Linked DNA regions of Homo sapiens: region 1 is linked to region 2. A link means that fine-mapping ties the variant in region 2 to the expression of a gene that starts in the linked region. Tissue or cell type: blood mononuclear cells. Region 2 holds a variant in brackets; the other region holds the start of a gene. All regions are shown on one strand. Distances are from middle to middle.

What was found. PIP is the estimated chance that this variant, and not a neighbour inherited with it, causes the effect.
Region 1: it holds the start of GHRL, and the variant in region 2 is fine-mapped to the expression of GHRL in blood mononuclear cells (TOPMed, PIP above 0.99).

Annotation. Positions count from the first base shown.
Region 1 is chr3:10,288,112-10,301,594 of GRCh38, forward strand. GHRL (ghrelin and obestatin prepropeptide) reads right to left here and starts at 4,836. Exons shown (of 6, transcript NM_016362.5): 1 at 4,731-4,836; 2 at 2,605-3,340; 3 at 1,962-2,098; 4 at 1,651-1,767. The coding sequence starts at 2,069. It overlaps GHRLOS (ghrelin opposite strand/antisense RNA), which reads left to right. Exons shown (of 6, transcript NR_073568.1): 6 at 3,957-5,338. It overlaps SEC13 (SEC13 homolog, nuclear pore and COPII component), which reads right to left. Exons shown (of 9, transcript NM_183352.3): 9 at 12,820-13,263. The coding sequence ends at 13,150. RefSeq lists enhancers at 34-649, 2,480-3,082, 4,594-4,663, 4,674-4,923, 4,734-5,028.
Region 2 is chr3:10,321,806-10,337,524 of GRCh38, forward strand. It overlaps ATP2B2 (ATPase plasma membrane Ca2+ transporting 2), which reads right to left. Exons shown (of 23, transcript NM_001001331.4): 23 at 2,218-7,320. The coding sequence ends at 7,009. It overlaps MIR378B (microRNA 378b), which reads left to right and starts at 8,424; the gene lies at 8,424-8,480. RefSeq lists an enhancer at 6,479-7,027. The variant G/A (reference allele first, on the strand shown) is at 4,613.

The DNA.
Region 1 (13,483 bases), 35 kb before region 2:
TGGTGACACAGTGCTGGCTGGTGGGGGGCAGCTTCCCTCCTGGCCTCAGTGGCCCATCTGTTCAATGGGAGTGGGACTTGGTCTCCAAAGTCTTCTACTCTGAAACTTGATTTTGGGAGGGAAACGTTTGGGGGGAGGTAGAGGGGCCTGAGATGAGAGAGGTGGGTGGGACACTCGGTTGTGAGGGGTTTGGTAGTGGGGCGCTCCAGGTCTCTGCAGCCACTCCTCTTCTGGCAGCCCCAACACCCCCCAGGCGTTTGACTTCTGGTTCCAGCCAAGGCAGTGTGGGTCACATGCTCCAAGGCTAGCTTTCACAGAAACTGCAAAGTTCCCGCTGTACCAGCCCCACCTTGCGTCGTCAGCCACCAAGACCTCTTTCTCATCTGGGTACTGGGCAGCTCCTCTGGCTGGGATGACCATGTGTGGAGCTAGCCGTCTCACCAGCAAAATATCCTGGTTTTGGCCTAAGGGTATGCAGCTCTTTCAGATGAGAATCTAGTGGATCCCACCGTGTAGAGGAAAGGTCTGAACACCGCCAGGTGCTGGTGAGGATGAAAGCGAGCAGGGGCTGGGGGAGCTTCCGACGGCTTTATTCCTCGACTGGAGAAGAGTATGGTAAACAGGCAGGCAGAGGCCAAGGCGGGCACATTTCACTCCTCTGGAAGGAAGAGGCCTCCCCTGGGCCACTGTGCGCTGTCTCTGTCCATCAGACCAGTGAGGAGGAAGAGGGCTTGGGGACTGGAGTCAGCCCTGACCTTGTGTCGCGTCCCTTCCACACACCGCTGTGGTACCTTGGGCAAGTGAGTTCACCTCTGAACTGTTCCTTGGCTCTAAAGTGGGAGTAATGCCAGCCCTGCTTACCTCACAGGTTGTCGTAGGGAGGAGGTGGGGCAGTTAGAGGTGAAGTTGGTATCCTCGGGCACAGCGTCTAATAGCTGCCATTATTAAGTGCTACCTTGGGGGAATCCTGCCTTAGCTGCGAAATGGTGTCACCAACCAAATATTTAGAAGAAACCATTCCCTGAACCACAGCCACAGGAAGGTTGCATAGAAAACCCCGTAAAATCCTTTACTCCCTCCTCCTCTCCATCCTTGGGTTGTCTTAACTTTCTCCTTGCCCCACGCACGATTTGTCAGAGCACATCACCCACACCTGCCCCCTCCTTGCCTCCAGGCGAGGTGAGTGGGTGCCGGAGCCTGGGCTGGCGCCAGCCCTCCCATCCAGGGTGCTGTTCGGAAGCACTCCACCCCACAGTCCAGGCCCTGGAAGCCCCTGAGTAAAACATGGTTTTCTGCAGAGCAACATCTTCAGTCTGGGCCTGCCGTTTATTTCTGGGTGTCTTTGTCTCTGGGCACTGTATTTTCTGTCCCCTTTGAGTCGCCTGGAGGCTCTGGCACCCTCTCTCCTCTGCCCAGGCTCCTTCCGTCCCTATTCTGTTGTAGCAAAGTTACTTCTTCTAGATATTTTTCTCTTAATGGGTAAAGACCTCACAGAGCCCAGGGCAGAGCTCAACTCCTGTGGTACTGGTTTTATAGTTCTGGGGAGCTTGTAGTTGGGACCCTGTTCACTGCCACCTCTCCCTGCCCTCCCTCTCCCCTGACCCCACCCTCCTCGCTGCCACAGAAGCATAAAACTGCAGAGGTACCGACCCGGACTTCCAGTTCATCCTCTGCCCCTTCTGCTTGACCTCCATCTTCCGGGCGGAGCCAGCCTGCTAGAGCTCGGGGCTGCAGCTTGGCTGGTGGCTTCTTCGACTCCTTTCTCTGCTGGAAGGGGGAAACAGTCTGTTTAGGACTCTAAGCCCCCATGTCCTTCCAGAAACAGTGAGGTCAGACCCAGAGTCCTTTGTGCTCTGGGAGAAGACTGAAGCCCAGAGATGGCGCTGCTGCTCCAGGTCACAGAGCTGGTTGCTAAGTGGCAGGGCTGGAACAACATGTGGGGCTTTGTGGGGAGGTCTCACCTGGACTCTCTGGTGTTCAGGGCTCAGGAAGCTGGAGCCTGCCATGGCCAAGTCCAGCCAGAGCATGCCGAGGAGCAGGAGGCTGCAGACGGTCCCTGGGGAGGGCATGGCCTCAGCTGGGTTGCAGACAGGTGGGCCTGGGGGAGAGAGGGTCTCCAGGCAGCTGCCTCCCCTTCTCATGTGCCTCTGAGCTTGCTCAGGTAGGAGCCCAGCAGATGGCGTGAAGGGCTTTACCATCTGGGGTCCTGACTGCTGTGTAGAGAGGACCCCCGCTTCCACCTCCCAAGGTAGAAGATGATGGATGTGTGTTCTCTTCTCCAAGGCCGTTCAGGGCAGAACACCTGGCAGCAGGACTTGATAGGGGCTGGGGGTCCTCCCCGGTGCCTTTTGTCCCAGGCTCTGAGAGCTCATGGCGAGTCTTTTCATGAGGAGGGAGGAAGCTGAACCAGCAAGGGCCCCAGGGCACTCAGCAGGGAGGGGGTTAGAGGTAGCTCCTAAATGAAGCTCTGTCTTCCAGCCAGACAGTCCGACATCCCCCGTGTTTAGAGGGGACTCCTGAGGCCCAGAGAGGTTAAACGGACGGGCAGCAGTCACGGACAATAAACCTGTCAGCAAACGCACACGGAGAGTAGAGAGAGCTTACCTGCAGTTCCTGGCGGAGGTGGTGCCTGGTGGCTGTCAGGTCCTTATATAGGATGACTGGCGTTTGTTCTAAACCAGCAACCCCATCCCAGAGGTGGCCTAGCTTCCGTGGGGCTGATGTACATTCCTTGGGAACTAAAAATGTTCTTGTCCTCTGGGTAGAAGTCAACAGTGGAGGTCAGATGCCCTGCGGAATTGCTGGGTTGGCGAGGGAAGAAGCATGTGCTCCAGCTGTCCCTGGAACACGGTGGCGGGGTGCCCCAAGTGGGCATGGCCCTGGTGGAGGAGGGAGGGAGGAGAGTGGCTCTGGGGTCTGGGTGCAGCTTTGTTGCTGTGTGACCTTAGCTTACTCGCCCTTTCTCCCTGGGTAAAATGAGGCTGTCATCACTAGGAGAGCTCTGAGACCTCCCCAGTCCAGCGCCCCGTTGTTTCCCATGTGCTGTTGCTGCTCTGGCCTCTGTGAGCCCCGGGAGTCCGCAGGGAGCCAGGCTGGTGATTCTACACCTTCCCGAGGAGGAGTCCCACCTCCCGGTTGAGCAGACTGCTCCTGATCATCCTCTCCAGAGAGTGGGTGTGGGGATAACTTCAGCCAGTGGCTATGCTTCAGTCATTTCTGCCAGGTGTGACATGACTGCCTGGCCTGGCGTTTTTTCACATAGCAGCTTGCCTTGCCTCCCTCCAGCAGCTTTGGTCCCTATTTTAGCGGATGCCTCTTCTGAGAGGGAAGTGCATTGGACCTGGAGGTGGAAGATCTACGCTTAGCACGGGCCTGGCTCCTCTCTCATTGACTGGCCTTACGCCGACCACAAATAATTCCCCTTACCCAGAGTCTTTGAGGGTGAAATGAGGCGATGGGGGGAAAGTGGCTTCTAACCTGTGAAACACCCTGCAGATGACAATGGTTTCATACCAGGCCCATAGGACTTCCCAGCATAGGCCAAGGCCACTGCCTCATTTCCCTCGGCCCCAGGAATTTCTTCCTTTCTGGAGTGCTTCATCCAACTGGGTGCCCAGGCAGGAACCCCTAAGGGCCAATGAGTTGTCTGCAGAGAAGTTCTAGCAGTTCAGGAGAGGAGCTCACCTTAGGCTGGGGCTTGCGGCAGGGATGTTAGCAAAGGCTCCAGGAAAGAGGCCTGTGGTGAACTCGGGGCAGGGCTTTGGAGGGAGGGCTTTGCGGCAAGCAGAGGGGAGGTGAAGGCGTGGGTAGAGTACATCAGGGCAGCATGGAGAAGGCTGGGTGGCTTGGGGGAGGGTGGCGATGGGGTCATAACAAAAACATAAGAAGGTGGTTTGGGGCCAGGTGATGGATGCCTTGGGAACTGCTAGCCCAAGAAGTTTGGGCTTTTTTTGCAGGAGGGCAGCCACTGAGGATTCTTGAGGAGAGAGAGACCATAGAATGAATGAAAGAGTTGGAAAGACTTTAAAGCTCTGGGAGGCTGAATCCTTTATTTCGCTGGAAGAAAAACTGAATGCCAAGAGGGCCTCACTTTCCCCAAAGCTATACAGCCATCAGGGGCAATGCTGGGATTCCCCCATGGATCTCTTGACTCCTAATACAGTGCTCTTTCTGATATGCCATCTGGCTCCATAATGAACATTGTGTTCCAGGAAAATCAGTCTGCGCTGAACAGGATGGAATTGGGGCAGGACGTCCAGTGAGGAGGACATTGAGGCAGTAGAGCAGTTGATTGCCGAATGACCACCTACCCTGACTTAAAAGATCAACCTCAGGGAGGATTGGAGCTTTCTAGAGTCTCTTGGGACAGCAGAAGCACAGGCCGGGTTGGACTGAATCTTTAAGTGGACATGAGGGACAAAGTACCTCCTGTTGGTAAACATCTCACCACCAACCCACTGTGGTGGCTAAAATCCCACCTTTAGTCCCAGCAACATATGAGCATGTCACCAGGAGGTCTTCACAGGCCTGTCTGCCACCTGAGTGTAGACATCTTTTGGCCCTGGAGCCCAGAGAGGCTGAATGTGGAGAGGGTGGAGAGAGGTCTGTAGTCCTCAGAGAAGACTTGCAGCTTTTTCAGAGCCACCAACCCATAAAAAAAAAAATCCCCAAACAGAAAAATCCTAACTGTGGTGACCAGGTACCTCCTGAGACATGAAGCCTCCACTTACCTGGACCCTGGAGGCCTCTCCGGGCACAGCTGCCAATGTTGATCTTAGATAAGACCACCAGCAAGTAAACATCCACTGTGCAAAGCTGTGTTATCTTTGGGGAACTGAAATGTCCCCTGGGAGTTGGAAACTCCCCTAGCCACATACCACAGAGTTGAGGAAGGAAGAGCTGATGGACGGAAGAACCATGGCGGGAGGAGTCATCCGGAAGCTACCTCGCTGCCCTGTCAGTTACGGAACAGAGGAGAGATGCCGGCTGGAGGACACAGCAAATTTGAACCAAGAGGAGCTTGGAGGAAGCCCGAGCGACCTGGAGGGGACTGGCTGACCTTCCTCATTCTTTTCAAGTGTGAATAATAACCAAGCCCAGTTTGGCAACTCCTTGAGGGTGAGGACGAAGCCCCATTCTCCTTTTTGGAACTTGGTGGGGCTCAGGAAGCAGGTTCTCTCCAGTCGGTGGCTTTCCTTTCTGTTGCGGGTCTCTTGAGGGCCTGCCTTCATGAAGGCACATGAGTGACTCATCATTTGTGAATTAATTGCTATATGTGAAGGGCATCTGAGAACAAATTATCTTCATAGACTTTTCATTATAATTTTATTTGTACTGATAATTAGTTGGTTTAGCAAGCTCTTTTTTCATAGATTTGGCTAAACTTCAGTCTGAAAGAGGCAAATTCTGGGGTTCTAGAAAGAGATTTTATTCTTTGATATAGGGCTATTTGGTGGGGTTGCTTTTTGTCCTAGTTGTAGCTTTTATAATTTCGAGATTCACATTTTGCAATAGAAATATACAGGCATACCTTGGAGGCATTACAGCTTTGGTCCCAGACCACAATGAAGCAAGTCACACGAATTTTGTTGGTTTCCCAGTAAATATAAAACGTATGCTGATACCATACTATAGTCTAAGTGTGCAACAGCATATGTCTAAATGAATATACATATATATTTTTTTGAGACAGGTTCTTGCTCTGTCACCCAGGCTGGAGTGCAGTGGCACTATCATGGCTCACTGCAGCCTCCACCTCCCTGGACTAAGATGATCCTCCCACCTCAGGCTCCCAAGTAGCTGGGACTACAGGTCACACCACCACACCCAGTTAATTTTTGTATTTTTTGTAGAGACAGAGTCTTGACATGTTGCCTAGGCTGGTCTTGAACTCCTGGCTTAAGTGATCTGCCTGACTTTGCCTCCCAAAGTGCTGGGATTACAGATGTGTAGTCTTTGAAATCCAGTGTGTGTTCTTACAGTGCATTTCAATTTGGACTAGCCATGTTTCAAATGCTCAGCAGCCACATGCGGCTCATTCTAGATAGGCGGCCATCGCTCTTAAATCCTCCCTGACCTTAGCCATGCTCTCTCATCCCTCCTCTTCGCCAAGCTCTGCCTCTCTCACTGGGGCTTCCCTAGCCTCCGGCCATCTTGGGGCCAAAGCTCTAACACTTTGCCTCTCTCGTGTCTTCTGTTCCCCTCCAGTGGCTTCTGCTTTCTGCCTTAAAATACACCCAGGTTCCTAATCCTGAAAACGTCTGTTGTGCACCGATCCCACCCTCCCCTCGTGTTACCATCTCCATTTCCTTCCCCTTTCCTTGTGTCCTCTTCTTTGCTGTGTCCTGGCCCCTCAAAACTTGACCTTGCCTCTCATCCCCACTGCTGTACTGAAACTGTTGTCTCAGCGTTGCTGATCATCCAGCCTTTTAGTCTATGGACCGCTAAGAGCCATAGGACGACCTCAGGGTGGGACGTGGCTTGGAGGGCCATCTCGTCTCAATTTCCAGATACAGACCTGTGTTGGGTTGTGTTGGATTCATGAGGAAAGCTTCATAAGTTTTATGCACGTTTATAAGACTCCATCCTTGGATTCTGATCCAGTAGCTCTGGCGTGGGGGCTTTAGAATCTGTTTCAAGTATCTCAGGTAATTTTGATTATAAATTACCAAGTATCCCAGGTAAATTTTGATTATAAATGCTTGCTTCCAGCAGAAAATATAAACATATGGAAGATGAAATCTTTCTCTCTGAATAACCCAATTCAGTTTCCACTCGTGAATATCTTATATAACCGTAGTACATTTATCAAAATTAAAACACCAGTGTTAGCACATTACTGTTAATCTCCAGACTATTTGTAAGTCACCAATTTTTCCATTGTCCCATCTGTTCTTCCTTTTCTTTCTCTTGTCATAACCACTTTTAGAGGGTTTTGAATGGTATCATTTTGTCTTCACCGTCGGCTTATTAGCTATACTGTACTGTTCTATTCTTTGAGTGGTTGCTCTAGGATTTACAAATATGACTTCAACATATTGCAGAATACCTTCAACAACTACGATATCCTTTCACAGATAGTGTAAGAACTGCACCACAGAATGCTTTCATTTCCCCACTTCTATTCTTTGTGATATTATTGTCACACATTTTATTTTTACTTAAGGTATGAGCCCCACAATGCATGTTAAATAGCCAAAGTTTTTAGACAGATTAAAGAAATTAAGAAAAAGTCTTATGAACTCAGGTATTTACTATCGTGTTGCTCCTTATTCCTTAGTGCAGATCCATTTTTCTTTTCTTTTTTATTTGAGACAGGGTCTCACTGTGTCACCTGTGGTTGAATGCAATGGCGTGATCTCAACTCACTGCAGCCTCCACCTTCTGGGCTCAACTGATCCTCCCACCTCAGCCTGTAAAGGGATATTTGCAAAGGGATATCGGAGTTGTTGAAGGTATTTGCAATATGTTGAAGTCATATTTGTTTTTTTTTTTTTTTTTTTTTTTTTTTTGAGATGGAGTCTTGCTCTGTTGTCCAGGTTAGAGTGCAGTGGCGTGATCTTGGCTCACTGCAACCCATACCTCCTGGGTTCAAGCAATTCTCCTGCCTCAGCCTCCTGAATAGCTGGGACTACAGGCATGCGCCACCACACCCAGCTAATTTTTGTATTTTTGCTAGAGATGGGGTTTTGCCATGTTGGCCAGGCTGGTCTTGAACTCCTGACCTCAAGTGATCCATCTGCCTTGGCCTCCCAAAGTGCTGGGATCACAGGCATGAGCCACCGCGCTGGGCCTGAAGTCGTATTTGTAAATCCTAATTTTTGTATTTTTTTTTGTAGAGACAAGGTCTCACCATGTCGGTCAGGCTGGCCTCACACTCCTGGGCTTAAGCAATCCTGCTGCCTCAGCATCCCAAAGTGCTGGGATTACAGGTGTGAGCCGCTGTGCCCAGCCTGTTTTTCATCTAGTATTTTCCTTCTGCCTGAAGGAAACTTCTTTGACATTTCTTGTAATGGCAGCTCTGCTGGTGATTAATTCTTTCAGCTTTTATTTGAAAGAGTCTGTATTAAAATATATATATATTTTCACTAGGTATAGAATTTGAGGCTGACAGGTTTTTTTTTTTTTAATTTTTTCAGTACTTTAAAGATGTTAATTTTCTTATGGTTTGCCTACTTTCTGATGAGAAGTTGGCTGCTGCTCCTTTTTTTTTTTTTTTTTTTTTGAGACAGAGTCTTGCTCTGTCGCCCAGGCTGGGGTGCAGTGGCGTGATTTCGGCTCACTGCAACCTCCACCTCCCGGGTTCAAGCAATTCTCCTGCCTCAGCCTCCCGAGTAGCTGGGATTACAGGCACCTACCACCATGTCTGGCTAATTTTAGTAGGGATGGGGTTTCACCATCTTGGTCAGGCTGATCTCGGACTTCTGACCTCGTGATCCACCCGCCTCAGCCTTCCAAAGTGTTGGGATTATAGGCGTGAGCCACGGCGCCTGGCCTGCTGCCACTCTTATATTTGTTCTTCTGGATGGAATGTCTCTTTTTTTTCTGGTTGCTGGGAACATGGGCTATTCCCACCCCTATGTGAGCTCCAGCTGCTTGGTCTATTGGTTTCACCCTTCATATATGAAGGTTAGTACTTGTCCAAAGACTCCAGGAGACTCTTCAGCTCTCAGGAGCTTGCTCTGTGCAGCTTCCTCCTCTCGTCCTCTTCTGCCTTCAGTTCTGCCTTGGTCTTTTTTGTTTGTTTGTTTGTTTTTTGAGACAGAGCCTTGCTCTTTCGCCCAGGGCAGAGTGCAGTGGTGTAATCTTTGCTCACTGCAACCTCCGCCTCCCTGGTTCAAGCAATTCTCCTGCCTCAGCCTCCCGAGTAGTTGGGATTACAGGGGTGCAACACCACGCCCGGCTAATTTTTGTATTTTTAGTAGAGACAGGGTTTCACCATGTTGGCCAGGCTGGTCTCGAACTCTTGATCTCAGGTGATCTGCCCGCCTTGGCCTCCCAAAGTGCTGGGATTACAAGCGTGAGCCACCGCGCCCGGCCTGCCTTGGTCTTCCTGAACTCTGACTTCTGTCTCTTCAACTCCTGGAGACTACTAGACTCTGGAGTCTCTCTTTACCTTTTGGCCCAGAAACTGCTTCTGGGTAGTAGTAACCTGGTGCATTTGTTGTGCTTACCTGTTTCCCTTTTCCCAAACACTGCCTGTTGTCCTATGTCTGAAAGCAGTAGTTGTTTCATGTACTTTTCATGATTTCCTAGTTGTTGTTTTTTTTTTAAATTTATTATTTTATTTTATTTTATTTTTTTATTTTATTATTGTTATACTTTAAGTTTTAGGGTACATGCGCACAATATGTGGGTTAGTTACATATGTATACATGTGACATGCTGGTGTGCTGCACCCATTAACTCGTCATTTAGCATTAGGTATATCTCCTAATGCTATCCCTCCCCCGTCCCCTCCCCCCACAACAGTCCCCAGAGTGTGATGTTCCCCTTCCTGTGTCCATGTGTTCTCATTGTTCAATTCCCATCTATGAGTGAGAATATGCGGTGTTTGGTTTTTTGTTCTTGCGATAGTTTACTGAGAATGATGATTTCCAATTTCATCCATGTCCCTACAAAGGACATGAACTCATCATTTTTTATGGCTGCATAGTATTCCATGGTGTATATGTGCCACATTTTCTTAATCCAGTCTATCATTGTTGGACATTTGGGTTGGTTCCAAGTCTTTGCTATTGTGAATAGTGCCGCAGTAAACATACGTGTGCATGTGTCTTTATAGCAGCATGATTTATAGTCCTTTGGGTATATACCCAGTAATGGGATGGCTGGGTCAAATGGTATTTCTAGTTCTAGATCCCTGAGGAATCGCCACACTGACTTCCACAATGGTTGAACTAGTTTACAGTCCCACCAACAGTGTAAAAGTGTTCCTATTTCTCCACATCCTCTCCAGCACCTGTTGTTTCCTGACTTTTTAATGACTGCCATTCTAACTGGTGTGAGATGGTATCTCATTGTGGTTTTGATTTGCATTTCTCTGATGGCCAGTGATGATGAGCATTTTTTCATGTGTTTTTTGGCTGCATAAATGTCTTCTTTTGAGAAGTGTCTGTTCATGTCCTTCGCCCACTTTTTGATGGGGTTGTTTTTTTCTTGTAAATTTGTTTGAGTTCTTTGTAGATTCTGGATATTAGCCCTTTGTCAGATGAGTAGGTTGTGAAAATTTTCTCCCATTTTGTAGGTTGCCTGTTCACTCTGATGGTAGTTTCTTTTGCTGTGCAGAAGCTCTTTAGTTTAATTAGATCCCATTTGTCAATTCTGGCTTTTGTTGCCATTGCTTTTGGTGTTTTAGACATGAAGTCCTTGCCCATGCCTATGTCCTGAATGGTAATGCCTAGGTTTTCTTCTAGGGTTTTTATGGTTTTAGGTCTAACGTTTAAGTCTTTAATCCATCTTGAATTAATTTCCTAGTTGTCTATAGTGTGAGGGAAATTCTTATTTATTATTAAAGAGACAGGCTCTTGCTGTGTTGCCCAGGCTGATCTCAAACTCCTGGGCTCAAGAGATCCTCCTCCCTCAACCTTCCAAAGTGCTGGCCACTGCGCCCAGCCAGGGAAATTTTTTTTTTTTTAGACAGAGTCTCACTCTCTTGCCCAGGCTGGAGTGCAGTGGTGCAATCTCGGCTCACTGCAACCTCCACCTCCTGGGCTCAAGCGATTCTTGTGCCTCAGCCTCCTGAGTAGCTGGCACTACAGAGGCACACACCACTGCACCTAATTTTTGTATTTTTAGTAGAGATGGGGTTTTGCCATGTTGGCAGGCTGGTCTTGAATTTCTGGGCTCAAACATTCCGCCCGTCTTGGCCTTTCGAAGTGTGGGATTACAGTTGTGAGCCACCATGTTGGCTGGGAAATTCTTACAATCGTTAATCCTTTATATGCAGAAGTGGAAGGTCTCCCCTTAGTGTTTCTGGGCTCACTTGTAAATGGAAGCCTGTGAATCTTCTAGTTTTGGGAGTTGTTTTCACAGTGGCTTGCTGAGTTTTGCACTCAGAATGGATGAGTATTTGATGGCAATTTTTGGGGTCTCTGGCTTATAGCACCATAAAAACTCCCTTTTCTTCACCCTGCTGATCTCTCAGAGGTATTGTGTCTATGAAGGCTTTGGCCTGCTCCATGTTCTAGGGTCTGTGGGTTTCTTTTGCTGTCCCAGTTGCTTTGTTTTTGCAAAAGGATTAAAAACATATGGCTGCTAGCGCCATCTGGCCCTAACCAGAGCTCTATGCCTTTTAAATTTCCCTTACTTTTATCTCATTTGGGCTTGACAACTGCCCGGCAAGTTTTACAGATAGTATTTCTATTTGACTAGGCTATTTTGTGGTAATAAATTTTGGGGTCTCCTCTTACCCAGGAATGGTTAATGTGTTGCCACTCTAAGTATAAACAACTATTATGGTGCCAACTTCATAATTATCTTAACCAATCCTTGGTGGTGGGAGTTAAAATAGAGCACACAGTCAGGGACCCATTAACCTACCACCAACCCAGAGTGACACGGGACTAGTTCCTTCTCGGTATTTTCTTGGCGACAGCAGCTGGCACCATAGGAAGCCCAGGCCCAGGCTTGAGGAGCACAGAGCGTATCAGGGAGGCAGACGTGGATATGGTTCAAGGATTCACTGTAGAACTCGACACTCAGTAGTGCACGTGAAGGTGCCTTCCTGGGCTTTGCTTTTCTGAGTAAGGGAAGGAAGGAAGCAGCTGTTTTCATGTTGGTCTCAGAAGGCTTGGGCTTTGTGGACTGACTGGAGGCTGACTGGGCCAGGCCATGGCCTCTCTGTCCTCACCTTTAACCAAAGCAGTTTCACTTTCTTCTATGTTACATAGTATGATCAAAGATTTTTTTTTTTTTTTAAAGGGGATTTTGCTGCTGAAAAAGGAGGGAAGGACAAGAAGTAGGCAGACTAGGGGGCCTGAGGCAAGTGGGCTGACCTTTTATCTGAATCTATTCATACAAAGGTTTGGTGTGAGAAACATCCTTGTATTACAGCTGAGGAGAGCCCCCCAGCTCCCACCCTGATTCTACAGTGGGGAGTAACTGTTGAGATGGGCCAGGCCCTGACGCTGGCTTTACGTTTGCACAGTCCTGGGCAGGGCTTCTACCTTCTGAGCGCTTCCTCATCAGTGAACTGGGTACACCCACACGGGGTTCTCGTGTTGCTTAAATTAGCGAATGTGTGAAAGATCCAGTGTAGGGTCTGGCTCACCGCAGGCTCACTGATGGCTATGGCGATTGTCAGGGTCACAGGGCCTCCGCTGAAAGGTGATACCTGGTTCAGGGTCAGTTAGGTCTCCCATCATGGGGCCCTCCTTTTCCTGACAGGGTCAATAAACTAAATGAATCGTGCCCACTTTCTGGGCCAGCATCTTAACTATTGGTGTTTGGTTAATACCACGTTGCACCTGCGTGGCATTTTGTAGGTCACCAGATGCACTAGCGTGTTTGAATCTTGCAGCCATCCTGTAGGGCAGACTGTATTAGTCCCATTCTGCAGAACAGGATGTGTACCGAGAGGGTAAGTAGCAGACCCAGGGCTACAGTCCTTGTCACCAAAGGCTGAGTCCAGTGCTCTGTATGGTGCTTTCAGTATAAACTGAATCAGAGATGCTCATGCAGTGACAAGCCACCTTTGTGCGTGGGGTTAAGCCAGGCCATCACAGCCGTGGCCTTTGTGAATAGTTTGTTCTAGTGCGTGGACCGACAAGAGTCAAACTGAGCTGGTGGGGTGGGGTGGTTAGGATAACGCAGCAGGAATTATAAGCAATATGACTTTATTTAGTTCCTTTGGAAACAAAACCCCCCAAATAATGCCTGAACCCAAAGGTACATAAAAATGACCCAAAATAGATTTGAACATCACTTGTAGTTTCTTCCTCGTAACATGAGTGCTTTCAGCTGGACAGTAGATTACAAAGCATCTCCGATCACGTTAAGGCAGATGATCAATCTGTGGCTGCATCTGTAACTCCTCCTGGGAAAATAATCCTGTTGGAGTTGGGGGCTCTTCCCAGTTGTCTGGTTAGTTGGCCCAGGAAGGGGCAGTCCTGGAGCTGGCGGGTGGGGAGCCAGGCCCCACCTGTCTTGTCACTGCTCGTTCTGCTGGCCCTCTGTCACTGATGCTGATACGGAGCCCTGGCCCTTGTTGACATCACTGATGCACACCCACTGCCCATCAACTGACTCCTTCCACAGGGTCACCTGCGAGTCAGTGCACAAGCAGATTATCACGGGTCTGTGCCCTTCCCTCTGCTGTCCCCTAAATATGAGCCTCATCCTCATCAAGAACCACTGCCCAGAGGCTTGTGGGTGAACAGAGCATGTCCCTCCTCCACTGAAATCTCACCAAAATGAGAGTCCAGGAATAAAAACTCACAGAAAAAAAGGAGTAACAATAACAGCAGCTGTGGATGATGATGTC
Region 2 (15,719 bases):
GAATGTTGTAGGATGAGTGACATCTTAGGAGTAAGTAGACTGTCCTAGTGCTTCCTTGTTGTAGTCTCCCTCTCAGTACCCAAGGACTGGGACCAGGGCAGAGGAGGCCAGGGAATGCCCCTCGCCAGAGGCTGGGACCTCTGGCCCTGCCATCCCTAACCCCTATATAGGACTGCCCCTTCCAAACCGATCCCCTGGGGTCCTGAGTAAGTCCCATCAAGGAGACCCCCCTAGGCAATGAAGGATCTCAGCCAGGCTCCTGCAGCTAGAGCCCCAGACCTAATCCTCAGGGTCCCCAACCCCAGGTCTCTGGCTTCACAAGGTAGGGCAGCTGAAGGCTCCCCACAAGCGCAGTGAGAATGCCACACTGGAGGACAGAGCCTGGGCTCCCCGCCTCAGCCACATATGGTCTAGCCCTGGGCCCCTTGTGACATTAAGGAGGCAGATGAGCTGGGGGAGGCCTTGGCTCCCCTTGGGCAAGTCACAGTCCTTCAGTTTCCTCTGCTGAAACTGGGAGTAAGGACCCTAGCTGGAGATGGTCACTGCTTGAAGGAAGATGTTAAGGCTCAGAGAATGTGATAGACCCAAACTGTCAAGGAGCTTTGGAGGGGAGGCCAGGGGAGTAGGGTGTTAGAATTAAGGGCCAGGCCTCTGGGCAACTCTTCTACCCCACTGCAGCTTTCAAGATTTTTTATTGCCCTCTAGTGGAGAAATTGTTGCAGGGGTGTGAGGGGGTGGTGGTTAGGTTAGAGCAGGGAACAAAGGCAGGTTTCAGGGGATCTCTTGGATCTCCTGTTGTTTTTTTTGTTTTTTTTTTTTTGGAGATGGACTCTAGCTCTGTTGCCCAGGCTGGAGTCCAGTGGTATGATCTTGGCTCACTGCAACCTCTACCTCCCGGGTTCAAGCAATTCTCCTGCCTCAGCCTCCTGAGTAGCTGGGATTACAGGCATGTGCCACCATGCCTGGCTAATTTTTGTAGTTTTAGTAGAGATGGGGTTTCACCATGTTGGCCAGGCTGGTCTCAAACTCCTGACCTCTGGTGATCTACTCTCCTCGGCCTCTCAAAGTGCTGGGATTACAGGTGTGAGCCGCTGCGTCCTGCCAGATCTCCTGTTCTTCAAGGAACAGGCTCTGGCCTTGGCTCTATAGCTGCACCACTGACTTTCTAGGTGATAAGGCCAAGTCACTTTTCTCTGAGCCTCACTTTCTTTGAGTGGAAAATGAGGACAAGGGCATATTAGATGTAAATATAATGCATCAGGCATAATTGTGATTAAAAGAATTTCCTTGTGTAGACACTGATGTTGAAGAGATTGGGGATTTGTGACAAGCAACAGAACTGTATCTTATTCATTAAGGTATTTGCTGTAAGGTATTTGGCCCATAAGGCGCTGTAATATGGCAGTTTAGAGTACAGATGCTGGCATCAAGACTGCTAGGTATCAGTGCTGGATCTCCTGCTTACCAGGTGGGCATGCTCTTCACCTCTTTGAGATGCTGTCTCCTGCTCTTTTGAGTGAGAATTATAATAATACCTCCTCTGAAGGTTGATATTGGGATTAAATGAACCCTTGGATATGAAACTGCGTATGGAAGTCAGATGGGCCTATGGCGCTTGATTTGGGGATCAGTTCAACCTAAGAAGAGCTGTGTGAGTGTGTGAGTGTGTGTGTAACTCTCAACCCTTGGGCCAACCTTAGGGATTACTTGTTGGTCTGGGCATATTCTCTTTCTCTGCCAATGTTCAGCAGAGGTTTGTGAAGTCCAGACTCCTCAGGTGCCAGGCTTCCCTCTGCCTTACCCCTCTCCCCAGTAGGGGGGTGCCACCTAGATCCAGTGTCTGTATTCCGCATCTCCTCCCTCTGGTTAATCCAGACCCCAAATCAGGCCAACTTTCCCTGATTTTTGCCCCCCCACCCCTTGCCCCCAAACCTCCTCCGCTTCGTCCTGAGGCCCCGTTCCCCAGTCTTCTTCTATGAGATGGTCAACCATTCCTCATAGGTTAATGGCTCATGGCAGGGTGAGCCTGTCTCCCTCAAATGGTGGGTGTTCAAAAGGTGTGATCTAGTGGAAGGAGAGAGACTGCCCGCTGAGCTGTGGGCCCTTGGGCAAAGTGCATTTCCCTCCCAGGGACTCAGTTTCCCCCTGAGTTCAACTCCACGAAGGGCGGGGACCCAGCTGTCCTTCAGAAAAAGGCCTTGTGATGTGTACCGTGTCTGCATTTCCACGTGTGCATTTATTGTTATTGCTCAGTATAGTGTTGAAAAGGCAGACAAATCCCATTAATTACAAAGAGCACAAGCCAAAGATACAGAGAAATAAAGAGTGTACAATAAGAGCACAGTCACTTCCCAGCCCCGATTGTCCCAGAGCCCCCCAGAGCCCGGGCAGCTTACGGAAGCTGGAGGCGGCACCATTCCCTCGCTACTCTATTATAAAATATGTGCACACAAGAGTTAGCAAAGTGTGGTGACCCCCGAGAGGAAAGGTCCAGGAGGGAGAGCACCACAGGCATTACAAAACAGACTTAGGGGGCTGAGAAGGGCAGTCCCAAAGCAGCCTCCAATATTGTTTTCAGTGGAGGGGGTGATGGCTGCTGCCTGGGGCTGGGGACCCTCCTCCCCCACCTGGGTTGGTATGATCTCTACATTAAAATCAGGAGAGCTTGGTTTGGAACTTTGAAAAGGCCTGGGGACTTCCTGCTATTGTCTGACTTCCCTCCTGGCTCTGGAAGGCCTAAAAGCCTTCAAGAAACGCTCTTCCCTACAAGAGCCTCTAATGGTGGGATTTTGGACACAATGGCAGGAGAGAGATTTGGGTGGGAGGCTTGTCAGAATGCACCAGGTTGGCAGCCTCCTGCAGGTAGCGCAAGAGTGGGCTAGGGGAGTGAGGGTTCCGAGAAGGCCCAGGCAAGAACTGCCTGCATCCCAAAGGTACTGGAGACTCCAAATTAAAGAGCAAGAAACTATCCCCCCAAAACAAAATGAAACAAAAACAACAAAAAACCAGTTCAGGAAAGGGAGATAGGAATAAAGGTTTCTCCATGATGAGAATTAGAAGTGCAGACAACTGGGCCACACATTCTTTCCCAGCTCCAGGCCTAGGAGAGACTCCTCTTTCTCGTCTGGACCAGGGACAGATGGCGGGTCCACCCCAACACAACCAAGGTGGGTGACTTTGGTTCCCAAGCTGAGATTGAGTGGGGGCCTGGTGACCTCTCATGACAACTCCTGGGCTTAGGGGGCAGGTGAAATGATGGGAGGAACAGCAGGCTTCTCTCAAGATCAGGATGCCCTTTTTGTCCCTCTTTACAGAACATAGTCTATTTCACAGCCCTGAGTGGACAGTAATTACAATGGGGGGAAGATGATGGCACAGGGAATGACAGAGCCCAGAATTTGGGGGTGGGAATGGGACAGGGGGTGGAGGACTGGGCACAATTTAAAGTTTATGTGGAAGAATAGATGTGAGAGAATAACTAGGAAATTTTGTAAAAGAAGAGTGAAGGGACTCATCCCACCACATAATAAGACATTAGAAATTGACAATAGTTAAAATTGTATGGCTGGTGCCAGATGAGACACCCAAGTAAGCGAAGAGAAGAGAAGTTCCAGAAATAGATCTAAGTCTATGTAAGACATCAGTGTGTGGTAAAGGTGGCATTTCAGCATGGTTGGGGAAAAGAGTGGCTTCCAACAACTGGAGGACCCAGGACAAGACAGGTTCAGAGTCCTTTGAGCCAGTGCAGTCATTTTAATTGGTCCAGTCTCAGAAATAGGACTGCCTCTCTCTTGTCATCTCTATGCTATGGTTGGGACAAGGGGACAAGGGGCCATGGTGAGGGGTTGGCGGGAGCAATGGAGGCTGCTCCTGAGTTAAAGAAAGCTCCGCCTGAGTTGCAAGAAGGAAACTCCTCAGAGCTCTCTCTGCTCACCTCCAAAGATGAGTGATTCTGCAGCGCCAGGAGTCACTGAACGGGCTCCCTGCCCTTCCCTCATCTGTTGAGGGGGAGACAAGTTGGTGAGCTTAGCTCTCAGAACCAAATCTGCCACTTACTCCTGGAGCCCTTGTCTAGAGGACAGAAAAGAAGCTATGTGGATGATGCAGTCCCAAAGTAGAAAAAAGTATACATTACAGATATATTTACTATGTTCTGTTTGATGTTGTTTTTTGCTTTTTTTTTTAAACCACAAACATTTCAGAACCACACTGCACGAGTCAGAAGAGCCAGCGATTGAAAGCATAACCATTGCATAGTATTAAATGAACAGAGATGGTGAGTTCTTTATTTACATTATTGTCTAGATAAAAAAATTCATAAAAACAGATGAATGGTCATAAATTATTTACCCCCTAATGGAGTGAACTGCCAAACGTACCCCATGCTGCTAGATATAGGACGCAGAGTGCAAGCTTTATGTACTACAGTGAGTTTTGACAAACCAACCATTTCGTGTGTGTGTGTGTGTATGTGTGCAAGTGTGAGAGTGAGGGGGTGCATGTGTGCAAGCATCCTTCATTCCTGACAAGAGAAGACCAACGCTAATGTTGGCATTCTTCCATCGCTCCCTGTTCCCTAAGCCAGGCTCCACTGAGAACCCCTCCTGGCTCC[G/A]AATGAACATGGAGCATGGTGTGCAAACACAGCTATCCTGATGTCATGGAACGAGGTCACGGACACATGACTGATCAAAGAAGTGGGGAGATGGAAAACTGTGAGAAAGGAAACTCCAAAAAACACCATGTTCCAAGGCTGCCCCATGTTTTACACGTGCAGATCTTTCCTTCCTTGTAGGAGAGCAGTGGGCTGGCTTTGGTGGCGTTTGTACTGGAATCCAATAAGCACATCTGAGGGCTGGTCACCCCTTTGGTTATGCAGTTCCTCTCCTGGATACATTCAGAGATACTTCTTCACGACATTCAGGTGATGCGCTCTTGAAGGTCCTCCTTCCAGGAGGATTTTGCCAGGTGGGATGGGCTGACTTTGAACCCCAAACCCTCAAGTTTTTCCACCGCCATCCAGATGTAGGCCCTCCCAGTTGACTATGGCTCTTTTCCCGAGTGGCTCTCATCTTGTTTGTGGAAGAGTTCTCTGGGCCTGGAGAAGGGAAGGGGCTGGGCTGACACAGCCATCGTGAGGAGGGTCAGCATGAGGAATGGATTTTGCAAGAGAGGCGGAAAGTGTTTGGTTTTCCTCGAAGCATGGGACATCATCGATCATGGTATTCAAAATGTCTTTTGCACTGTACAAGTTTATGGAAAAAAGATCATATGCTGAAAAGTCTCAAAGCAAACTTTGTATTAAATACAAAAGTTCTTTTATGAAAAACGCTGAGACCCACAAAGTGCTTAGCAGTTAAGAGGCTGACATCCAATTAAATAAGCTCTTATTAAGTGGGATTACTAGTGCTGTTGTCTTGGGGAAAAAATAACCACCTTTTCTCACCTGTGATACTGTAGGGTTTCAGAATGGCTTTCTGTTTGGGAAAGCAAGACTTGCTGTTAAAAGGCTACAGTATATATTGTGACTACAGGAAGACAATTTGGTTTAAAATCACACTGAGTACATCTCAATATACACATCATAAGGTTCATTCGGATCTAAATAGTGCAGAGAAAAAGGCTATTCTTCTTCAAAAATAAAAATAAAAGCAGCAAGCCATACTGATCCTCATCCAATATGCCAACAGCTCAGATGCTGCCATTAATAAGGAAACAAACCTGTAAGTTACTAAATAAAAAAAAAAATCAACACAATACCATTTATAATATTTCAACACTACCTCAATCTCTGTACAGACAGTGCCAAAGAGAACCTATTTTTGAAATGCTCTTAGTAAACTCAAGCGAGTTTCATTGAGAGAAAAGTCTTCGAGCAGTGCTTTGCAGATCCTGGCATCCTTGGGCCGGATGGCCGTTAGTGTTGCAAACCCAGGAAGCCTTCTCTCCTCCTCTCCCTTCGTCTACGGAGCATGTTGTTAAACCCCTCAGGATGGCAACTCGGTAGCATTTGGCTTCTGCCTGAGCCTCTCACGGTAGTGACATTATTGAACGGAAATAGCAGGCAAAAATCAGAGCATGGCTATCATAAAACATCCAGGATGCAACCCAGGGGAAGTGTCTGTTGGGCCGAGCTGTTTTTATAGCATCTCAGCCACCAGTGTTCTTAAACCATACAAATAGCCAAAGACGTTATCTACAGGTTTGTAAACAAATTACATTCTTCTTTTAGGACATAAATAAGTTAAAATAGAGCAATTTAAGCGGAAACAAGGCAACATGCCGGCAAAGAAACTTTATATATCCATGTATATATATTTATATATATATATATATATCTACCTATCTATATGGACGTATACAGTCTCGGAAAAGTATACGTTGATATAGATACAAAGAAATGGATATAACCTTGTGAGTGTCTATGAAGTTCTTCGGTTCCATTGGTGCAAATCTACTAGGCGAGTTAAGCTCTGCAATTTCAAAAAGTTATTAAATTAATCTATACAACTGAGACCATGCTGTGCAAGCATTTCAAAAACTCACAGACCAGTGGATTGGATAAATAGTCTCAGAAAAGAGTCTGTTTGCAGTTCCCGCCTAAGAAAACAAACAAACAAACAAAAACCCCTCCCCAACCCCCAAAAACCAAACAAGGGGAGGATTGAAAGTGTACAGTACATTCATGCGGGGGACGTGGTGGCTGGGCGGGTGCATGGCTGGTCCATGTCTGGGTGGGAGCCAGGAAGGGCTTGTTTTGGGAAAACCGCTCACTCCCGTAAGCCCCCAGTGGAGATCCCGCCCCTTGCCTTGAAGTGAAAAAGAGTTCAAACAGCATCGCAGCCAGAGAAAGGGTCTGTGGGTGGAAACGTTGGTTTTCTCTCCAGTATTTGGTTTCCGATTGTTGCTCGTTGCTGCTTGGGTGAGTTGGGTGCCTGGATGGATGGGTGCCCGGAAAGCGGGTGGCAGCGGGGTCCATGAGGGCGGGCGGGCAGGCGAGAGGGTCCTCAGCTAAAGCGACGTCTCCAGGCTGTGGATGGGGCTCCCTGGACTTGAAGAGGTAGCTGATTTGCTTGTGTCGGTCGTCAGGTTGATCCCACTGTCGATGGCGCTGTTGTTCTTGTTGAGGGATGACGGCGGGCTCGAGTTCTGCTTGAGCGCGGCATCTTCTTCCAGGTCGGTGTCATCAATGAGGGGGATGTGGGGCTGGGAATCTTCGATCCGGAATTCAGGATGAGCCATGAAGTTATGGATGGAGGTTCGAGATTCAGGCTTTTCTAAACCTTCATAGAGAGAGCTACGGAACGCCTTCACGACGCGGATCTGCAAGGGAAGCACAGGGGTCAGGAGCACTGCCCAGGGACCACAGCCAGGCTCGGGGGGCTCACAGGAGGGGCGGGTGGGAGAAGGGTTAGGGCAAAGCAGGTGGCTGGAATCCATAGTCGCTGGGTGTTATTAGCATTGACAGGATGGGGGAGAGTGAAAAAGGGGGCTCAGGTTATAGGCATCCTTGAGCTGGTTTTTAAAAATCTCTTTGGTTTTGGTAGAAACTAGTGTTAGGACAGGAGGAATCACCAAGCACCATCAAAGAGATGATGGGGAACAGTGGTTAAAGGAAGCACAGTCGACTCCTGCGGGCACCCACACCTAGTGAGAGACTGAGCCTTGTTCACTTTAAAGCAGAGGTTCAACCATGCAGACAGGGAGGAGGACCAGGTGGGAATCAAGTAGGAAAGAGGAGAGGCTATTAAAAAAATTCATCTTAGGAAAACCACACACAGTTAAGAAACCATACAACATGGAACATGTTACGTGTCACAAACAGAAAAGGCACAGAAAGGAGAGACGGTTGGATGAGTTGGGATGAGAGAGACACATGAGGGCCAAACAGAACGGGAACATCAAACCAAAGGCAGCAAAGCAAACCAAAGCCAACCCAGGGCTTTCTGAGGTGCAGAGCAGAGGCAGCCAGAAAGCACATGGGAGCTGGCGGACAGATGACATTCGGGGGCGGGCTGCATGCCACGGGGAGGCCGGGAGCCACATGGCACACACAGACAGACACACGGCTACACTTGGAAGCCTGGACAATGTGAACGGAGGTCGTTTGTACCCAGCGTTTCTTTCCTTCATGCATTTGGGAGGTAAACACTCGAGTATAGACTCAAAGCCCTGGCCGGCCAGTTATTGGAGCTTGCTTTGGGGTCTCTTATTTCCTGGGGGATTTTGTTTATTTCTTTATTTGTGCTTTGAAAACACAAAACCAAAAAACGAGGCTGGAATCAGATGGCCAAACCCAGCCCCAGTGGGATTCTGGGGTGTGTGGAACTGAGTCACAAAACAGCAAGTTCTTTCATTTTCTGTCTCAGTTGTGAACCACACGTCCTGGGGCCTCAGTTTCCTCCGCTGAAGAATGGGAGGAGGCTGGTCATTGAGTCTTCAAGGCTAGTGGAAAGAGCACTGGACTTGGAGGCAGAAAGACCCAACTTGCATCCTGGCTCTGCCACATCTGGTGCCTTGACTGTGGACAAGCCACACTAGCTCTCTGGTTGTCCTCTGTCCTGCCTCACAGGGTGCAGAGGGACGGGACCCTCACTTGGAAGAGAGGTGTCCCTTCTCTGGACTCCTGGGAGGGGCAGCAGTGCCTGTCATCTCAAGAGTCTGATGGGACTTGGGACAAAGGTGCCTCCTCCTCTCGTCCCAGCCCCAACTCGGAGTGGAGTCAGAGGTGGAGAAAACAAGGCGGCGTTGGCGCCTCCAGGACAGAGCCTTAGTCGGCTGCTGTGTGCAGGCCAAGTGGCACCCACCTGCAGAGCAGTGGCTGCCCTGCACCACAGGCCTGCGGGGAGGCAGGGGACTGGACGAGACGGTCGTGGGGAGGCCCCTGAAGTCCCAGGACTTGAGCTCTCAGCGGAACCCAGGGGTAGCTCCTTTGTGAAACCCTGGTGGGGAAAGCCCTCTTTTATGGAAGTGGAGTTTCTAGGTGACTGTGGTTGATGATTTTAAGTGTCATCGCTGAAGGTTTGTTTTACTGTTGCAGAGGGAATTCTTTCTAAAGCATGTCATACGCTCCTCTGACTTCTAATTTAGAGTGCACAGAGAAGAATTTAACATAAGCTTTGTCAATTATCCTTCTTGGTCTTAGGTAAGACCCCATGGATTGTCTTGTTTTTTCTCCCTTGCTGTCAGTCATCGCTTACTAGTTAGTGCTGACTTTTCTGTTTTCTGAAAAGCACCTCTGTCCTTTCACCTTGCATACTGTGAGCTGGGACTCCAGGGTACCCCACTTGCTGGAATTGTGCTTTAAATAAGAGGCAACAAGTGCCAAATAAGAGCCAGCCAGACACGGCCTTTATGCTGGTGCTCCATCATGGCCACTGTGGCTGCTCTGAGCTCTTTCCCCCTGGAGTCCCTCTTTGTGGCTCTGCAGAGATGGTTCATATTCTGATCTCCTGAAAAGTGAGCCGTTACACCTTGATTAACTGAAAACAAAGAAGGCGCTGCAGGCCTCAGCTTTCTTGTTTGTAGAATGGGAATAGCATCAAGGCTGTAGCTGCCTAGCCTGGTGCTCAGTGTGTTCTGAGGTTGAAGTGCAATTCAGATGCTGACTGGAACACCTAGTGTATGTGTGGGGCAGGGGGATGGTGGCAGGACCCTGTCATGTGACTGACAACGCAGAGGGGATGACACACAATGAGATGAGGCCCCTCCGCCCTCCCCGTGGCATGGAGACAACAGAAAAAATGAACTGCTCTGGACAAGACTGTGGGGACGAGACTTTTTGGGACACCCCGCCACGGCCATCTCAAGTCTCCACTTCGGTTCTCTCCGAGGCTGAAATGGAAAAAACTATGGGAAAAAAAAAAAAGGCTCTTCCATCTCCCCTCCCTGCCTACCCTAAAGGTAGGAATTTTTTTTTTTTTGGCATAAGCTGCATTTGGGCGTGGGGGTGAGGGGAAGGAGAGGAAGGGACCTGGTGAGCGGGGTTTCAGATGTTTTGGTTTCGTCAGCACAAAGGGAACAGGGAGACCCATGCCCGTTGTCAGAGGGCTCTGAGAAAACGCACAGGCCCTGGTCTGAGATGGGTTCTACATACTCGAATGTTTACCCGGCTTCAAGGAAGCCAAGAGTCTGGGATTGATTCACATTCATTTCAGGCTCAAGGTTAAAGACTCACAACCTCTTTTAATTTCACTCTCTCTTGCTGAACTCTGTGTCCAGGGTTCTCTAGCCCTCTAGGGAAACAAACACATGGAATATTCAGACAGTGGAGAGGTCTAGGGTTCCCCCCACAAAGCAAGCCATTTTCTCGCCAACCCAAGGTTGCACTAAATTAGTTACCAAAACGCTAATGAGAAGTCCAGCTTTCTTCCCTTTTTGTTGTCTTCATTTCTCCCCCTAACAGTGCAAACTCCTTGCCCTAGGAGTCGTCAGAACCAGGAATCTGCAGGGGAAGTGGGAGCAGGAGGTGCCTTATCTGTCTAGCAAGGTACGGCGTCCAGAATGTGGCTTGGACCTGGCTTATGGGGCTGGCTCTTGGCTTGGGTGGTTTGAAAGAGCAGGACTTCCACTGATAAACACGGAGCCTGCTACAGACTTGCTAAGCACAAAGATGGTTTGAGATGAGTTAGGAATTTGAGGCAATGAGAAAGAGAGGCTGTGCGGCTTTGCCTTGGATCGAAGTGTGGGATGCTAATCTTGTCCTTGACCACCAGTGGGAAGGTGCCCTTCTCCCCAGTCTTGGCCACGCTGGTAGAAGTTCAAGCTGAGAAACAGCTTCCCTGGCCTTCCCTGGAGGACTGACTCCTTTTCACGATATGAGGCTGTGGGCGTGGGCACTGGTTCCGGAATGGAAGTTCAGCCTCTGTGGCTCCAGGTCTGTGGGCCTCCTGGGAAGCGGTGTGACTAGTGGGAAGAATGAGGGACTCCGGAGTCTGACCTCTTGCCACGCCCTTGCTGTGGTCACCCTGGCCTCATCAGTGTCTTTCTCTGCGAAATGGATGTGTTGGCAGGTCCTCCCCTCCCACAATTCAGTGGTGAGGCATCTGTGAAGTAAAGGGAGTGGGGAACTGCTCTGGAAATGTTGAGTGGGGCTCAGGTATAAGGCAATAGGGACGTGCCATTAAGTTTCCGGGGCAAAAACAACCTCGTTTTTGAGTTAGTCAGAAGAGTGCACCAATTCATTCCCTCCCGAGCATCCTCGTGCCATGTGCCTTGTGACTGCGGTCAGGCTTACCATGTGCGTCTGTCTGCTGAGGCCTTCATCTTGCGGTGGTGCCGTGGGGAGGGGAGGGCCTGCGATGTGTTCAGGGGTTTTCCTCACTCCAGTGTCCCAGGTCAGAAGTCAGGCCCTGTCCCAGGCCTTTGTGGTCAACTCTTCATAACCCAGGGGACAGTGGATTGACTCCTTCCAGGGCACACTGGCTGCAGGTGTTTTTGCCTCAGCAGGCACATGGGCAGCCTCCTCTGCTGGGGAGTCCCCAGGAAGCAGATCCCCCTCAGAAGGCTGGTGGGGTGCGGTGGGGGTGAAGGAGTTGTGGGGTAGTGGGGCGGCCCACTTCCTCATCCCATCAAATTGGGGCCCTTCTGTCACTTCCTGGCCACCTGTTTAAACCTCCCTGTGGGAGGAAAGCACACTGGCTTCTGCAGGGACCTTGGCTGGTGTTTAGAGGGTCCTCAGAGTCCTTGGAGACCAGAGGAGGCAGCACTGTTGTAGACACTACTCAAGCAAAGGAGGCACGAGGCTGTGTTGTCCAAATGTGTGTACTGAAACCACAGAGGCTGTGATCCTGTCTGGGAACCAGTGCCCTCAGGCAGGGGTTTGGTCAGGCTCTTTTTAAGACTATAGGCTCAGGAAGGGTCTCAGGAGGCACCCAGAATTACAGGCTGGATTCTGTCACAGAGGGGGAATGCGAGATTCTCCAGGAGGCATGAAGAGGGAGAGGCAAGATGGTGAGCAGGGTGGGGAGGCCCTGGCCAACCCTGCCGGGTCCCCTGAGAGAATGAGGGGTCAGGGCAAGGACTGTCAAGTTGGCTTTGGCTGAGCCTCTGCCTGGGCTTCTTTTCCAAGACTGTTCCAAAGTTGGGGTAACCACGGGCTACAGGGGACTGATCTGGCCTCGAAGGAGGTCAGTGTAGACACATTCCTGTCTAAGCATTTCTGCAGAAATGAAGAAAAGGGCATTTCTGCAAAGAAGTGTTGTTCCCGGACGGGCCCTATTGAATGGCTTTGCAAATGAGGCAGAAGAAAAGCTGAGAAAGAAGTGGCTGAGGTTTGAGCGGACAGCTCTAGCTTCCAGGCTGTGAAAGCTAAGATGAGGGGCTGACTCGGGGACGACTTCCAAAGGCAGTGGGCCTGCCCAGCGATGTCAGGTGTGCTCCGTCGTGGCCAGGGTGAAGTGCTGCCCTTCAAGAAAGAGGCTCAACTGGGATGGACAAAGAACTGGGCCTTCACCCAGAAGCCAGACTGCTAGCAGGCAGCCCCAGCCGGAGGGCCGCAGGAGTCATCGGGAGGGGTGGCAGAACAGAAGTGGATTCTTCCCCATGTAGCTCTCCCTGCCGGGACACTTGGTTACCGCACCTCAGGATAGGTGGGGGTGCTGAGCAAGGCCAGAGCTGAGTTGGTGCAGAAAGGAGCTGGGAGGTCAGCTGGCTAGGCTGCTGCTAAGGTGAGAGCTCTCTGGTCTAAAGGGGAGGAGGATGGGACCGGTGTTGCCTTCCCCGAGAAATCCTGGCAGTGACTGCCTAGTGACGGTATCTCATGGAAATGTGACTCAGCCACCATCTGCTGAAATGCATCTCCATTTCATCTTGGCTCCCCGGTCCTCCCCAGCACTGCGTTTCTGTGCTGACGAATGAGCACTGAGAGGCTCCTTCCCTGCTTTCTGCTTCTGTCCTGCCGCTATGGGTCGTGGACATTTGCCATCAACAGGCTCCCTGTGGCCCGCGCCTCCTACTGGAGGCACTGAGGGAGGCGCTCCCACCAGCACACCGGGTTACCTGCTTGGCTGCAGGGGTTGTGTTGTGGGTGTTCTGGTTTTGGATGGGGGTAGAGGCCCTTTATAAAGTTTCAAGGGGTGAGCTGGAGTCTACTTCTCATCAAAGAAGCTGGAGGCTAAGACTGACACTATGCCAATTGGAGAAGACCAGAACCAGGGGCTCCCCTGCAGATCAGAAGCGCCTGACTGGAAACATAGCAGGGCGATGGGAGGAAAGACAGACTTGTTCCCTATGGGGCCCGAAGCCATGGGTCCGGGAAAGAGCTAGACAAAGCCAGCAATGAGTGATCTAGATCAGAAGTGGTGGCATGAGGAGATGAGCTTGGCAGGAGGGAGATGAAGGAGGGGCCACAGTCCCAGGCTATCTCTCAGATAAAGGAGGGCAGGATGCTGAAGGGCATATCAGGTCCCTCTGGGCCTGCTGGCACCCAGGCAAGATGTGAGGCTCGACCCACCATTTTCTACCAGGGGTCAAGCTGAATGGGCCAGGGACCTTGTCCTTTCCAGGAAGGGCTTAGAACTTCAGCAAGTTCCAAGCTCAGCCACAGGGAAAGGTGTCTGCAGGGCAGCTGATGCAGTCAAAAGTGCAAGGGGAGGAGTGACAGGAAGCGGGCAGAGACTCTGAACTGCTGGGGTGCAGCGTCTAGGCTGTGAGCTCCTAGGTGGCCTGGGGATCCCTGGCTGACTATGACCTCTGACCTGCAGTGACCTCTTGGCTCAACTGTCCCCCTTGACCATGACCCTCATTACTGTGGGTGCCCCCTGACCAACTGGGAAAGTCTGGTTGACGTGACCCTCTCCTGGGTGGATCCCAATGTGACTGACTGGGACCCTAAGGGGCTTGCTCCCCTTGACCCACAGTGACCCTTCTGCTGACTTTGACTGCAAGACTGGGACCTCTTGTCCAACTCCAACCCTTGCCTTGGTGGTCCAGGCTTTTCCTGACCACATATGACCCTAGGCCAGTGGGACACTCTGTGTCCCCTCCATGTCTGTCCCCCTCTGGCTGCCGGGACCCTGTGGTGGGTTGGGACCATTTGGTCACTGATGTCCTCTTGACCAAGGGTGACCCCTTGACTGAACCAGACTTTTTGGCCACTTGGGACCCTAATGACCCTCTGACTGACCCTGGTCCACTGAGTGACTGCCACCGCATGACTGGCTACGCTCTCCTGACCAACGGGACCCTCTTCGGTGGCTGGGACCCTTCATCCCCCTGGGCCTGATTGTGACCGGCTGCCCCCCATGTCCTCTGGTGCCCCAGCCCCTGCCCGCCTGGGAGCTGGCGTGGGCAGTGCCAGCCGGAGGCAGTAAGGAGTCACACTCACGCCCGGCTGCAGCAGGAGGAAGGCTGGTCGGAGAGGAAAGAGCATTGGACAACGACACGCGACTAGGGCTAGAGAGATTGGCTACATCCTGGCTCTGGCTGGTGACCGAGGACTGTCTCCGCAGGGCCCCCTGAAAGGAGGCCCCGCTCTTGAAAGTATTGACTACTTCAATCTGCAACGGAGGAGAGAACGAGACAAGTTGCGAGAAGAACGAGCACAACGGCTACATGACTGACAGGGCAACGTCACAAGAACAGCCGCAGCCACGGCAACAACGACAATGTCACTTAAATCAAAACAAAAATACCAGACACACTCCAAGGCTCTGAAAAACGTCTGCTCAGCTCTGGGCCCACCTGCAGGCCCCAGGGTCCCCGGGAGGACACAGGGGGTCCGGCCTTTGTCCTGTGCTAGTGGCTCAGGGGCCAGTGGGCTGGCCAGTGGGGGAGGCAGTGATTAAACATGGTATCTGGAGGGAAGAGAGCAGTGTTCAGCCTCCCTCAGGTACAGGCGTGGAGGTAGAGGGTGTGGTGGGGGTCCTGAGGTGGACAGAGCTTGGCCTAAATTCCAGCTCTGTCACTTACTAGCTAGCTGACCTTGGGCAAGCCACCTCTCTGAGTCGAGTTTCTTGTTCTTAAGAAGGGTCAATGCCACCTGCCTGGCAGGGTTATCTGTAAGTGGCAAAGCACCTGACCCGTGTTAGCATTCCGCAAGAGGCAGGCAAGACAGGCGCCCCTGCCCACTCAAGAAATCGCAGTCCTTGCTTCCTCCCGTAATCTGGAGACCCCTGCGTGGCTTTGCCGCCAGGGCAGTGACAGCACCAGGGACATATTCACTGAGTTGTCCTGGACCTCCCAGGAGGTGGGGGCAGGCTGGGAGGGGTGGCTGCGGGGCCCTAACCAGGGAGGGTGAGCCCAGGCCCGTGTCAGGCACCTCCGGGTCTGAAACCGGCTTCCAGTCCCCACCCCAGCTGTGCCAGCTCAGTAGAAGGGGCCATCTCCTGGACCTTGGTAACCTCTAAAACTGGGGGAGTCACATCTACCTCCCAGGGCTGTGAAGGTCACATGAGGTGAGGTTTGGGACAGGGTACAGAGGGGTGGGAGGTGACCCAGGTGAGCTCTCTGCTACATCGGATGGAAATGAGGTGCTGGGCCACAGCTGGCAGGATGGTGGCCAGGTGGCTGCTTCTACACTGCACTTCGCCCAAGCATGCTGGGGCATGGAGGAGCTCCCACTCCAGCTCCCCAGATGGTCTGGGCAAGAGACCCACAGAGTCCCTTCTGACCCTCCCCTCGCAGGGCTGTGACAGCACTTGTGAGCTACAACACCTGCTCCAGGCATAAGGGGACCATGTGAGAGCATGTGGTATGTGTGTGGGGGGGTCGGGGGAGGCGCG